Regions from separate parts of the Homo sapiens genome. Here region 2 is linked to region 1. The links come from fine-mapping of genetic effects on gene expression. Tissue or cell type: whole blood. Region 1 holds a variant in brackets; the other region holds the start of a gene. All regions are shown on one strand. Distances are between the middles of the regions.

Region 1 (7,870 bases):
GCTCAGTCACAGTTTGCTCTCAGAGGAAGGCAGCCTATGCCCAAGCATCGGCGGGGCAGGCTTTGTTGCGATGGGGTCCCCAGGAGACCGGGCAGTCCTGGGCCTCACCCTGGGCGGAGGAGGAGAGACACCGCAAGGCACTGTCTCTGTTCAGTTTATGTTAACTACATTCCATGTATAACTCTCATCCAAAATAAAGTCAGTTTCCATCTGCTTTGTAATCATAAAACAATAGCTTGCCTGCCCCATCCAGGAGGCTTTTAAAATAGAAACTTCAGGGGAGGCATCTGGGCTCTGAAGGAGATTCCCCCCTGAGGACCCTCCACACATGGAGAGATGGGGGTGCCACGTGCAGACCTCAGGTCACTGTCCTGGTTTGTGGGAGTGGGGGAAGGGGTTCCTCATGGGCTGCAGAAAGGACGCTGGCTTCTAAGAAAAGGCCCTGGCCAGGTGCAGTGGCTCACGCCTGTAATCCCAGCACTTTGGGAGGCCAAGACGGGCGGATCACAAGGTCAGGAGTTTGAGACCAGCCTGACCAACATGAAGAAACCCCATCTCACTAAAAATACAAAAATTAGCCAGGTGTGGTGGCACGTGCCTGTAATCCCAGCTATTCAGGAGGCTGAGGCAGGAGAATCGCTTGAACCCGGGAGGTGGAGGCTGCAGTGAGCCGAGATCGCGCCACTGCACTCCAGCCTGGGTGACGGAGCGAGACCCCGTGTCAAAAAAAAAAAAAAGAAAAAGAAAAGGCCCTGCAGTCCATGGGAATCCCTACCAGGGACAGACCCTGGAAGACTCAGATTCAGGAGCCCCTTATGAAGGAACAGCGGGACAGGCCCCTCCTTACTGCAGCAGACCAAAAAGGCAAGAGATGCCTCAGGGGTCCAAATCCTGCAACCACTCCAGCTGGAGCACCCGGCAAGGAGCCTGGGCCCACATCAACCCTGCCATGTCACCACTGGCTGCATTTCCCTAACAGCCTTTCCTAATGTCCCCTGAACTGTGTCCCCCGAGAGACTATTTGGAGAGAGAGGCTCTAAAGAGGATTAAAGTTAGAATGAGGCCATAAGGCTAGGCCCAAATGCAATGTGGCTGGGGTCCTTATAAGAGAAAGGCAGCAGAGGCGTGCGCACACAGCTGTAAGGACAGGGAGAACATGGCGAGGGGAGGGGCCTCAGGAGGACCCATCCTGCCCACACCTCGGTGTCTGACTTCCAGGCTCCAGAACTGCGAGGTGATACATTCCTGCTGTTGAAGTCACCCCATCTGTGGTCCACTGCCACGGCAGCCTGAGCTGACGAATACACTTAATAACGTCCATTCTCGTGACTCTGGCTGGAAGGAGCAGCTCACAGGCTGTAGTGACAGAAACTGAAGGGCAGGCAGAAGCAGTGAGTGGCAGGAGAGGCATCTCACCCTGCAATTTATCCCCATGCACAGGTTCTACATACCCCCAAGACAGAAATCGAGCCCACTGGCACAACACTCTTAATACCAGCCACTCAACCACGCCCTTCTTGAGGCTTTTATCAGCACGGACCTCTAGAGACAGGAAGAACGGCTGGCTGGGGAAGTCTGGCTGTGCTGCTGAAGAGGACATCGTTGAATGGGCATCCAGTTCTCTGGCCCTGGTGGCTGGAATGGGGGCACCACCCACCTCGCCCAGGGGCAGGGTCTGCTTGGAGAAGGGACAGAGTCCAACAGTGACCAACTTTGAGTTCAAGAAGCTGGTGGGGCTGTGCGGGGTCCGGTCTCCGGAGGTGTCTCCAGCTTTGAAGACAGGCAGATGGAGACAGAAATATTTGGGGGTCTTAAGCACAGAGGTGACAGCAGCCCCCACTGTGGATGTCATCACTGAGAGCACCAGGGAGAAGTGTGGGGAGAAGGAGAGCTGAGGGCTGAGCACAGGCCATGCAGGCAAGGTCGTGCCCAGGCGGGGAAGCTGGCGTTGTGGCTGGGGGCAGAGAGGTGCCACGCCAGCACACGGCATCAGGGTGGGCCAGGGCTGACCACACAGGGCCCGGAGGACACAGGGTTCCTGGGTGCCTGCCACCCCAGCCAGCAGCCACAGGTCTGCCTCCACACCTCGGCCTTCACCTCCCACGGCCGAGTGAACACGGCTGGAAGGACATCTCGAATGTGTGCCCGTCACCACCGCAGTTTTACTCCATTTTTGGAGACAGTAACTTCCAGTGGCACATCCATGAAGGCAGACAGTCCTCTTGCGCATCACTCAAGCACATTTCATGCCCAGCTGTAGCAAGACCATGTAGTCTTTTGAACGACAGAACTGTTCTTCAGAAGTGGACCTCCCCTACAAAGGCCATGGACGACTAAGAGCTTGGGACAGGTCTTTAGGCCACACCAGCAGGAGCTCTAGACGCTAAATTCCTCTCAGCATTGAGACATCATTATCATCTTTTTTTTTTTTTTTTTTTTTTTTTTGAGGCGGAGTCTCGCTCCATCCCTCAGGCTGGAGTGCAGTGGCGTGATCTCGGCTCACTGCAAGCTCCGCCTCCTGGGTTCACTCCATTCTCCTGCCTCAGCCTTCCGAGTAGCTGGGACTACAGGCGCCCACCACCATGCCCAGCTAGTTTTTTTTTTTTTTTTGTATTTTTAGTAGAGACGGGGTTTCACCGTGTTAGCCAGGATGGTCTCAATCTCCTGACCTCATGATCTGCCCGTCTCGGCCTCCCAAAGTGCTGGGATTACAGGTGTGAGCCACCGTGCCTGGCCCATTATCATCTTAATTGTAATAACAACATTAAAAAATCAGCAAAGCTGTGCTGGATATCCTATTATGACCCAGGCCTGCACAGAACATTTCACAGTCTCTCTCAGTGAACCCTCCCACGATCCTGACAGTATGTTCCCACTTACAGACATGGAAACCAAACGCGCAGAGACTGACCTCCCAAAAGTCACACAAACCTGGGTGACTCCAGGGTCTGGGAAGCCTTAGAGAGATTTGGTTTTGAAAGCACATCTGATCTGGTAGCCTAAAGGAGGAATATCTCATGAAGACTATAAAGTGCTAAGCAAAAAAGTTCTTCCATTTTTCCCTTTAAAATTATGCAGTGCAGAGACTAATGTGGTCTGAGATAAAATATCACTAAGCTTGAGAAACGGTGGAGGCCAGGCATGGTGACTCACATCTGTAATCCCAGCACTTTGGGAGGCTGAAGTAGGAGGATCATTTGAACCCAGGAGTTCAAGACCAGCCTGGGCAACATAGTGAGACCCCATCTCTCCAAAAAATACAAGAATGAGCCAGGTGTGCTGGCACACCTTGGTCCGAGCTACTCAGAAAGCTGAGGTGGGAGAATGACTTGAGCCTGGGAAAGTTGAGGTGGCAGTAAGCCCTGATTGCGCCACTGCAGTCCAGCCTGGATGACAGGGCAGGACTCCTTCTTAAAAAAAAAAAAAAAAAAAGAAGAAAGAAAAAGAAAAAGAAAAGAAAAAGGTGGGAGGAAAGGCAGACAGTTCCAGATTTGTGCCAGTGTTTGACACAGACATGGAGTAACACAGTTCAGTCCATTTGCCAAAACCACTTCCAATGTGCAAACAACTGGAGGGGGCTTGTCCAAGATCAGGAGTCACCAAA[C/T]TGTGTTTTTTTTGCTACAAACTGGGAAGTGCCCCCTACATCGGCCTGCATAGATGAGGGATGAACTCCTCCCTCACTGGTACCACCTGCAGTTGGGACCATCTGAGGTGTGGCCATAGAAGGACACTGCCCTCCCCCAGGATCACCTTGGGGACTTCCCTCTGGGCTAAACAAGCCACTGAGAGAGTTCCCGCTAGGGCAGGGTAGCTGTTTATTCCCCTGGCTTTAATCAGGCTGATTTGGTGGCTTTGAGAGGTGCTCCCAACGTGGGCAGGGCACACCTGACACTTGAGGGGCCCCAGCCTGGCCACCTGACAAGTTCCTTCTGCACAAAGCCGCCACACCCTTCCTCACAAAATCCCTCCTGCAGGAAACATGTAGGAGCAGCACTAAACAGCTGGCTTTGGAATGATCAATAATTAACGAGGGTGCTTCACATCTGGCCACTACTTTCATTTAGGGTCACAAAGCCACGGTGCACACACAGTCTCAAGTGCATTGATGACTCATCCCCAGTAAGACAGGGCGCCAGCCCAGAAGCCTGGACTCTGAGTGCCCGAGTTCCTGATCTGCAGAACGGGGGTCTGTAGGATCGCTACAGTCTCCCCCAGCAGACACTGACCCATTTCCCCGTAGCCCTCTGCTCCCGTCCCACCCGCTTCACGCTCTTCTGGCTGTCACCAGACTGTCAACAGTGACTGTTCAATTAAGTGAGAGGCCGTGGCCACTATTTTGACTTCACATCTCCTGTTTTCTTTTTGAGCATGGTTTTTCCTCACTATTATTGTTGAAGTGAGTGTCTGATTTTGACTAACACAATCAGAAATAGTACAAATGAGCAGCGTGTTATATCTTGTCTTTGATTTGTGGTTTGGAATTAAAACAAGAGCTGTTACTTTGATTTTTTTATTAGAAAGATGGTAAGATTGCTTACAGGATTTCCATGAAATGGAGAACACAGACAGTACTGCTTGAGGTGCGGTGGTATATAAAATATGATTATGTGTTTAGTATCATTCTGTATTATTTCATTGGAAGAGAACAATTAATCCCTACAAAGAGAAAGCTCCAATTAAATCTGTGTTACATTCGACTAAACCTAGAAAAATCCGGATGCTTTGTGCCTTATAGATGAAACAGGTAATGTGTTATTTTGCGGGGATGTTTGTTTTTGAGACAGGGTCTTGATCTGTCATTCAGGCTGCAGTACAGGGCTGTGATGATAGCTCACTGCAGCCTCCAACTCCCAGGGCTGAAGGGATCCTCCCTCCTCAGCCTACCAAGTAGCTGGGACGACAGGTGTGCACCACCACACCCAGCTAATTTGTTTTTTATTTTTTGTAGAGATGGGGTTTCACCATGTTGCCCAGACTGGTCTCGAACTCCTGGGCTCAAATATCCACCTGACTCAGCCTCCCAAAGTGCTGGGATTACAAGAGTGAGCCCCCATGCCTGGCCAGAATACATTTTTTAAGAAAAAAGAAGACATGTTAATGAACCTAACATGCAGACCAACTAGATTGAGGCCTCCCAAGTGAGGTCAGCCTGGGGGACTCCTTTGGCCAACTAACAGGAGAAGTGTGTAACACTTTAAACAAACAGCAAATGTGAAACCAGGACACAGTGAGGCGAGCCCTAAATGGGAGGATCACCACAAGAGATCCAAGAATCTTGTGGAATAATCATTAGTGCCAAGGCCGATGCCTTGGGAATAAGAAAACCCTTCTTGGAATTTATTTTTCATATGGTGGACCAATAAAGAAGTGTGTGTGTGTGTGTGTGTGTGTGTGACAGAGACAGAGAGAAAATAATTTTACATCACTTAAAAAAGACCAAACAAGACTCTAAAATTATCGCAGATTTCATATACACTCATTATACATCAGGCAGAGAAGTAGAAAGCCCAGAATGCCAGCAACAATAGCTTTCAAAGGTTTCTCCGCCATCAGCGCTGTTGAGATTTGGGGCTGGATATCCTTGATGGTGGACAGCTCTGGGCTCTGCACTTTGCTGAGCACCATCCCCAGCCTCCTCCTATAGATGCCAGTAGGGCTCCCTCCCTACAAGTTGTTACAACCTAAAACAGCTCCAAACATTGTCAAATGCCTCCTGGGGGTGCAAAATCGCTCCCGGTTGAGAAATGCTGCTTTAAAACACCCAGGACAAAGATTCTGGAAAATGGATTATTAAGTAAATGTTTACAGAACCAATGTATTTTTAAAATCATGAAGGTGAGAACTCAGCACTGAAACAGCAATGGCAAAATCCGCAGTGGGAACGTGAGCCAAGTATGTTGCATAACGCCCAGAATGTGTCTTCCTTCCACCATAAACTGAAACATCTGCTCCTTCAGTGAGACATGCTAATGGATTCTGAATCTAATACTAAAAGTGAGAGGCAGTGAGAAATGATAGTTGGAGTGCTTTTTCTGGAGTGAATCTTCTGATACCAAAATTGCCAAAAATACAGTAGTGTAGACTAGATGCACAAAATGTATTTTCTGAACTACTTTCTATTCTGTATGTCTCCTCGAGGTGATGTGAGCTCTAAGAAATGTCCCAGATGTGTGGAAGCACATGTGTGCATGGAGCAGACTGCTCAAATGAGTCAAGCTGAATGGAAAATACTGGTCGCTCTGTGGTAAGTCAGAAAGGGCTGAATGTTGTCCCAGCGGAACTCACCCCCAGAGGGCAGGGCCTCTGGCCTCTTTTTAGAATGAAGAAAGGATGCAGAGTCTCTCAGCCCAGAGAAAGTGACACACCATGCTATGCTCACATCACATAATTACTCACTACAATGCAACACTGAACACCCAGATTAAATCTATTTTCCCCAGGAAACACTAGTTTGCGAAAGCAAAACGATGCCTAAACACAGTATCACTTACAAACCTCTTAGTAAGTTTTAACATGAAACTTTTTTTCTGACAAATCATTTCTACTGTGGCCTTTTCTGCATATAATGGTACATTCTCAAAGTATCTTAGTAGACCTCAAGACATCTCAATAATACTGCCCACTAGTAATGGATGTAAAACACTCCGGGGCACTTCTAGAGTTTTCAAGGTAATTTCTTATGCATTAATTCATTCATTGGTATGACAATCCCAGGAAATGGGCCGGAGTTGTGCGCTCCTTATTCCTACGGAGAAGTTTTGCATTGTAAATATTTTTTCCTAAGAGGCTGTAACAATTCACACTCCTCCGTCAGTATCTAAGAGTCTCCAGGCCCTTTTTTCTGCAAAACCAGCTGCTTCGTCTTTTTAAAACCTCCCTGCAAGTGTTTTTTTTTTTTTTTTTCAAGACCCTTGCTCTGTCGCCCAGGCTGGAGTGCAGTGGCACGATCTCGACTCACTGCAACCTCCGGCTTCTGGGTTCAGCAATTCTCCTGCCTCAGCCTCCCCAGTAGCTGGGATTACAGGCGTGCCCCACCACACTTGGCTAGGGCAGGACATCTACTTTTCTTTTAATGTGCATCTCCCTGCCACCCAGACCACTTGGCAGGCTCCTCTGTGAATTAACTCTGCATGTTTCCCCTTCAATCTTTCTTTTTTTCTTCTTCTTCTGATTTATTTAGTTAGAGTCAGGGTTTCACTCTGCTGCCCGTGCTGGAGTGCAGTGGCACAATCTAGCTTACTGCAGTGGCACAATCACAGCTCACTGCAGCCTCGACCTCCTGGGCTCAAGCAATCTTCCCACCTTGGCCTCTGGAGTAGCTGGGAGTAGCTAACATGCACCACCTGCCCAACAGTTTTTTAACTTGGTTGTAGAGACGGAGTCTTGCTATGTTGCCCAGGGTGGTCTCAAACTCCTGGGCTCCAGCAATTCTCCCGCCTCAGTCTCCCAAAGCACTGTGATTACAGGTGTGAGCCACCGTGCCTGGCCTCCCTCACTTTTTCTATTGTATTCTTTCCTCTCTTCTTGACCACGAAACCTGTGAGAGCATTCATATTGAAAATATTAACCCCTTTTCTGTCTTTTGCTTTGGAAATATTTTTCTCTAAGAGCCATGGTTTGTCGGTTTTAACATTTCTAGTTGTAGCATAATTTTGTTATATAATCCTTTCAGATGTTTATATAGGTAAATATATCTGACTTCTCCAGGCCTGGCTAAGACAGTCACCTATGTCCCTGTATTATACATGTTGTTTCCAAGTATTGCTTGTTTGTTTTTTGTGGGAGGAGTGCAGAGTATTTTTTTTTTAAAACAAACATTTAAATGGTCAAACCAACTGATGTTCATTTTCCTCTGTTACGACCTGAGCAT
Region 2 (6,303 bases), 75 kb after region 1:
GAGCCCCACCCAGGACTTCACCTGGTAGACATGCCCTATGGTGCCATCTGTCCCTACAGTAAACTCTGGGTGAAACCAGCCTCCTCCTCCTTCTATTCCCAGGGCCTGGCACCACCTCTTCCAGCCTTTCTGGGACTGGAAGAATTTGACCTGCCTTCCCAGGGAACAATAAACAGAAGTAGGGCATTGCGCCCACTGTCCTCAAGGCAGCTGGGAAGTGAATGAAAAATGCTGACAGTTCCTTCAGTAAGGAAGAAGACAGAGTCTGAGGGAGAGTTAAGATATCTGGAGTCAAGGGCAGAGTGGAAGGGGAGGGGAACGTAGATGGGTGTAGTCCAAATGGAAGCTAAAGTTTCAAAGTCCCATGAAGCCTTACAAGGTCACAGAGACAAGAGAATAGCTTTTAGATCCCAACCTCAGTTTCCTCATCGGCAAGATGGGTGTGATAGTTACTATAAGGATCGAATGACATAATGGATTCAAAGCACTTTGCCAACTGAAAATAAACTGTATTTCTCCTGAGGCATAAGTATTTCTAAAAAGGAGGCTACAGGAGTTACGGGCTCAGTAATAACAGGAAGTGGTATCTGTGCAAAGGCTTAAAACTGTTGAGCCCCACCAGGGCTATGTGGTGGAGGCCTCGCTCAGGGGACACGGAGGCCATTTGTGTAAGGGGTGCCGCTCTTGTCCCTGCTCAGGCTTCTGGTGAACAGGGGCCAGGAAATCCCACAGCCCGGTCTAATGACAGTCACTCTTGCTGACTGGCCAAAGAGCAAGGCTTGGGAGCAGGCAGAGTGGTGTTTCTGAAAGTGTGGGCCATCATATAAGAGTTACGTGCACGCTAATCTAATACATTCCTGGGCTCAATCCCAGGCCTGCTGAGTGAGACACTTTGGAAAACTGTAATTTTAACAAGCGCCTTCAGTGACTCTTACAAAAGTTTCAGAAGCACGAGCAAAGAAATATTCAAAAAGCTGTGCGGGCGGGAAGACCTGGGTCAAATCCCAGTACCACGACCTTGCTGCTGTGTGACACTGGGCAGGTTTACTTAACCTCTCTGAACCCGTTTACTCTGTTTACAAAAATATGGAGCATAACCACTGCAGTGTTGCTGGGAGGGTGAAAGGTACTCAACTACAGAGGCACGCATCCATGGCTTCATCCAAGCTATGAGTGCCTGTGTCTAAGGCATTCGTGAATGCCTACGTTTAAGAGGCAGGAGCCACTCTGACCCTCCTCTTTTAGGGGAACAATCTGCCACTAAGAGAGCATAGGGCTTCCTAGAGTCTCCCCATGCATAATGGAAGCCAGATACCGCTAATGTTCTATTCAGAAGCCCATCTCAGTCCCTGTTCCGGGGTCAAGCAAGGTGAGGCAGGAGGTAACGATGGGCTGAGCTTTGGAGGAAAGCTAAGACGACCCACCTTTCTCAGGGACAGGGCCTTGAGGTGGTCCAGGCTGCTGGACACAGCTCCAAGATGGATCTACCAAGGGGCTCTCCTGGGGTGGAGAGCATAAAGGATGAAAAGGCCGCAGGCCTCTGGACAGGTCCGCCGGAGACTCTAAAACTCAGGGAGGGAAAAAGAGCAGGAGTGGTCCATCGCAGGGTCACCCCTGGTACTGCCCGTGGCAGGGCTCACAAACACCCCACAGCCTCTTTCCCCCAGGAAGCAGGTTAAGATGAAGAAAATTAGGCAGGCAGCTACCGGGCGGTGCCTGGCTCGCGGCTCATGGCTCACAGTGGAGGATGGACACTGCTGTTATTTCCCCTGCCCTGGTACCTGGGCCGTGCCAGACATATCAGCACTTGGCGGCAGTTTCACTTTGCTGCTGTCCTGAGCCGAGCTGTTAGCAGACTGAGCTTTACTGTCCTGTGCCGGCTGTTCAGAGACCACTGTGCCTGGCCGAAGACTGAGGCAGGGACTTCAGGCCAGGGGGCCAGGCTGGCTTTTCCTGCCTTTCACTTCAGGTGGGAGCGGCTGTGGATGAGGATGTCCAGCGGCCGTCGGTTTCTAGCCTTGGGATCATTCTGGCCCCGACACGGAGTGACAGGGGATCCCCACGCGTCCCCGCATCCAGGGCGCCCCTTTAGCTGCGGCGGAGGCACAGAGAGGCCTTGGCGGCGCTGTGGCTTCGGTCGGCACCGGGTCCCGCGCAGCCGGGCCCTCCACCCTGAGTGGAGCTGCCTTCTAAGCACCCAGCCCCTGCCAATCACTGTGCCCAACACCAAGTTCCCGGGGCGCCCTGCCCTGCGCCACCGCGCGCTCGCTCGCCCGCCCGCCCAACTCACCTGCTGAAGACCAGGCAGCCCAGGTGGTTGATCTTGTGGTCGGAGCGGTGGCGGCTGTAGTCCTCCCACAGGTCCCTGAAGGCCGTGATGGCCAGGATGAAGAGCACCGGCGCCAGTGCCAGGCCGGGCTGGAAGGCGTTCACCGCCGGCACGAAGTTGAGCAGCGCGATGAAGACAAAGTACACGTTGGCCGGGCGGTGGAACTGCTCGAACAGGTTCTTGGGCAGGAAGGACAGCAGCGTGTACTTGGTAGTCTTGAGCCGGTTGTCGGCCAGGTGCTGGGCACACCCGCGCCGCCGTCGCCGCTCGCCCTTGGCCGCGCCAGCCGCAGGGTCCTCGGCGCCCGGGGGCGGCAGCAGGTTGGAGCGCACCGTGCGCGTCCTGCCCTCTCGGCGCCTCCGCCGTCCCGGAGGCCCGGGCTCCTCGGTCCCCGCCGGCTCCCGCTCCATGGCCGCGTGTCGCCGCGCCCGGCTCCTCCGCCGCTCACGCCCGCCCGCGCCGGCCTCTTAGGTTATCATCACTCGCGGCCCGGGCGCGGCGGTGCGAGCTCCCCGCCTGCGGGACGCACGGAGACCGCGGTCAGCGCGCCGCCTGGCCGGCCCAGCGCGCCCAGCCCGCGCCCAGCCCCGTCCACTCCCGTCCAGCCCCGCCGCCCGGCCGCAGTCCCCAGGGCGCAAGCTGGGCGGGTGCCGCACAGAGCCCCCTTGTCCTCGCCGCCCGCCCCCGGCCCGGGTCGTTTCCGCCGCGGTGGCCACGGCCCCGCCCTCGTTCCGCGCCCGGACTGGGCCACGCCGGATAGCGGGAAACAAAAAAAGCCCGAGCTGGAAACTTCAGAGAGGTTTAGTTTCGTTTCCCAGAAGCATCAGTTCGGTCCCAAAACGCTGCAAACGCGCGCTGCCTGCAGTAGGAGAGAGGAAACCGCGAAGCGCGAGAAAAGGCGCCCCCGTCCCCAAGCAGCCCGCGCGCCCTTCCAGGGGCCAGACCTGCTCCATCCTGGACGGCGAAACGACCTCGGGAGACCCCGGTTAGGACCTTACTCCAGGGATCAACTGGAATCAAAATCCAAAGGATCCATGGCATCCAGTGCTCCAATTTTTAAGTCTTTTTTACGCAGGACCTCTGCTCCTGGGGAGCCCTGGGAAGGGCGATTCCGCGTTGCCTCTAAGAACTTCTTTCCTACCCCACTTCCCAGCCCCCACCACTTTCAGATTCCGTTGTTGGGCGAACTAGACCGTTTCCTTTCCACCATCATCATTACTGCCTTTCCTTCCTCTCCTAAATAAATTCTTTTTCTTTTTTCTGTTCTTTCTTCATGGAAAGGAGAAATATATCGCTATAGCAAAGACAGAATTTGGTTTGCAGGTATTTGAGTGTCTGTTTCCCTCCCTGGGAAATCATGAGGACCGAAACGCTCCTTGTGCGCTGTAGCTCTGAGGTGGCTGTCATGGCCCGGACGGCGGGGGAGGCGAGGATGGTTGTGGGGAGGCGAGGATGGTTGTGGGGAGGAGAGGGGAGCGTCAGGAGGGTGTCCCAGAAGTGTGGGGCGAAGGGCTCCCCTCCACATCATGGGGCATCCGAGAAGGGGTGGGAGAATAAGCACGGCATGGAAAAAGGAGCTGGGAGTCCCCCACGTCCGCAGTGAGACCCCACAGATGTTTCATGGCTGTGACTGTTTGCCTCCCACTCAAGAAGTACAGAGATGAGAAGCAGTTATTTCTTGCCCAGGAGGCCGTGGCTGGGCGGTTGGCCGTGGCCCCAGGCTCTTCCTGGGGGTGCCTGCTAACAAGGCACTGCCCTGGATGGACTCAAATCACGTCTTCGCCAGGACCCTGGCTTGGGGAGGCCCTCCCCTCCAGCACCCTGGCTTACCCGGCTCCAGTTATGACATTCTTACATCTCTGCCCAGTTTTGCCACCATCCACAATGTTGCCCAGAACCCAGTGTTAGAAGGTAGAGTGGTGACAGGTGTGAAGAAAATAATCCCATCCCCCAGTCACAGGGGTGGGCTTTTGACATGTAGAGGCCCAGATCAGGGAAAGGTTTGGCTGAAGTCTGCATTGTTGGGGAAAGGAGTCAGGTCTCACAGTCAACCAGCAGAAACCCAAACGGAGCATCAACTGCAAATGAAGGCCCACAGCGCCTGCAGTCTTGAGGCCTCACATCCCATGGCTCCGTGTTTTCCTCTACCAGCCCACCTGGTGACCCCCGAGGCCTTCGGCCTCCCTACACTTCGGCCTCCTGTCTTCACAGGCATCCCCGTGGACCCTTCGCCCAAAGTCTCCAGGGGTGTCCGCGCCTACCAGACTCCCAGCTTCAGCCAGTCCACACTGTTGCCAAAGTAATTACCGCCTCATTCCATTTGCTTACCCTGGAGCTTCCAGGAGTACTCCTGGTGCTTACAAAGCCAAATGCTGATTCCTCAGGCAGAGGTCCCTTGAGGCCCTGAGGGGAACCAGCTTGCTGATTTTCTTCAGCCCCTCCCTGGTTCAGGCCCAGCCCCAAGGTGAGAGGTCTCCTTATCCTTCTCAGAACAGTCCTTACTCATCCCATCCACATTCCGCTCTAAGGTTCCAAGATTCTGTGAGTCACAATGCTCCTCAAGTCTGGAATCTTTTTCCACCTGCTCTTCCCCAGTGCAAAGTCAGGATTTCCAGGAAGGCCTAGCTCAGCTCACCTCTGGAAAGGTCTCCAAGCTGTGTGATCTGGGGAATCGTGGAGGGGTTTTGAGCTCAGGTGTCTTCTGCCAGCTGGACTCTGAGACCCTGGCCTGCTGGGGCGAGGATGAGGCTCTGATGTGGTCTGGTCAACTCTGGGTTGGCCATCTGCACCACAGGGCTCTAACAAGGGCCTGCTATAGGCCATGAGAACCACTGTAAGTGTCCTTGTTCGGCAAATACTTACTCATCCCCTGCTGTATGCCCGGCAATGTTCCAGGCACAGGAATTCATCGGAGAGCTAGAGAGGACAAGATGTTGTCATGGAGCTGCAGCAACTGAACGAAAAACCATGAGAGCCCACGGAGGGCTTTGGAAGGGATGAGGGATGGCCTTTTCGAAGAGAGGCACTGGAGTTGAAACCTGAATGGGACAAGATCAGGTGGAAGAGGCTTCCAGACAGAGGGGGCAGCTCTGTCAAAAGGTCCCAAAGAAGGAGAAATCTCAATGTGTTTAAGAAACAGGTGGGGCTTCTGCCTCACACTCATTCTAAAACCTTCAACCCCACAGCTTCTGCTTTAGGCAATGGGGACACCTGGGAAACACAGTAAGTTTCTGCTCCCCGGAACACTAAGTCCTCACGTGGGAATCCCAACAAAGATGGCTCAGAAAATGAAGGGACACCTGAAACCAGGGCTGGGAGGGGTGGGATCCTGCTCTTGCTCCTGTCAATTGGGCGGTCCAAGGAGGCTTCTCAAGCAACACTGAGCGGAGGCCTAGGGACACAAGCTGTGCAGGCACCTAGGGAAGAAATGGTAAGCACGGGGCGGGATAGGGAGCGTTCAGGGATTTCAGGCCCAGCAAGGAAGCCGGGGTAGCTGGAGCTGAGTGGGAGATTGGAGACGTGGCCGAGAGTGAGGTCATGTGGGGCCTTGTGGATCCCGGTGAGGATTTTGGCTTTTGAGCGAGAGGGAAAGCTTGGGAGGATTTTGAGAAGTGGCATCAAGTGGCTTTACCGAGGTTTCCAGAGATCACTCCTGCTGCAATGTAAATAGAATGTAGAGGGCCAGGGCAGAAGAAGGGAGACGTCGTGGCGAGCGGCCACTGCAGTGATCCTGCAAAGGTGCTGTGGCTCAGGCTGGGTGGCCATGGTGGATGTGGGACATAGCCTCCTCAGAGCATGCGGGACATGCTGTTGGAATGGTTGTGGGATGTGCAAGAGAGGAGGTGAGGGTGGCCCAACAGCTAAAAACCCAAGTTTCATCTAGTGAGTTGGGAAGACAGAAGATGAGGCAGAACTGGAGGTGCCCACCAGCCCTCAGGAGCAGGAGTCGTGCTGGCAGTGGTGATGTCAGTCTG

Evidence for each region. PIP is the estimated chance that this variant, and not a neighbour inherited with it, causes the effect.
Region 2: ATP10A starts here. The variant in region 1 is fine-mapped to the expression of ATP10A in whole blood (INTERVAL, PIP 0.95).

The regions. Positions count from the first base shown.
Region 1 is chr15:25,784,199-25,792,068 of GRCh38, forward strand. The region is part of intron 1 of ATP10A (ATPase phospholipid transporting 10A (putative)); the gene reads right to left. Among named protein-coding and RNA genes, the nearest start is that of MIR4715, 61 kb to the right of the region's middle. RefSeq lists an enhancer at 6,099-6,198. The variant C/T (reference allele first, on the strand shown) is at 3,605.
Region 2 is chr15:25,860,358-25,866,660 of GRCh38, forward strand. It overlaps ATP10A (ATPase phospholipid transporting 10A (putative)), which reads right to left and starts at 2,970. Exons shown (of 21, transcript NM_024490.4): 1 at 2,291-2,970. The coding sequence starts at 2,739. It overlaps ATP10A-DT (ATP10A divergent transcript), which reads left to right and starts at 4,913. Exons shown (of 2, transcript NR_183988.1): 1 at 4,913-5,551.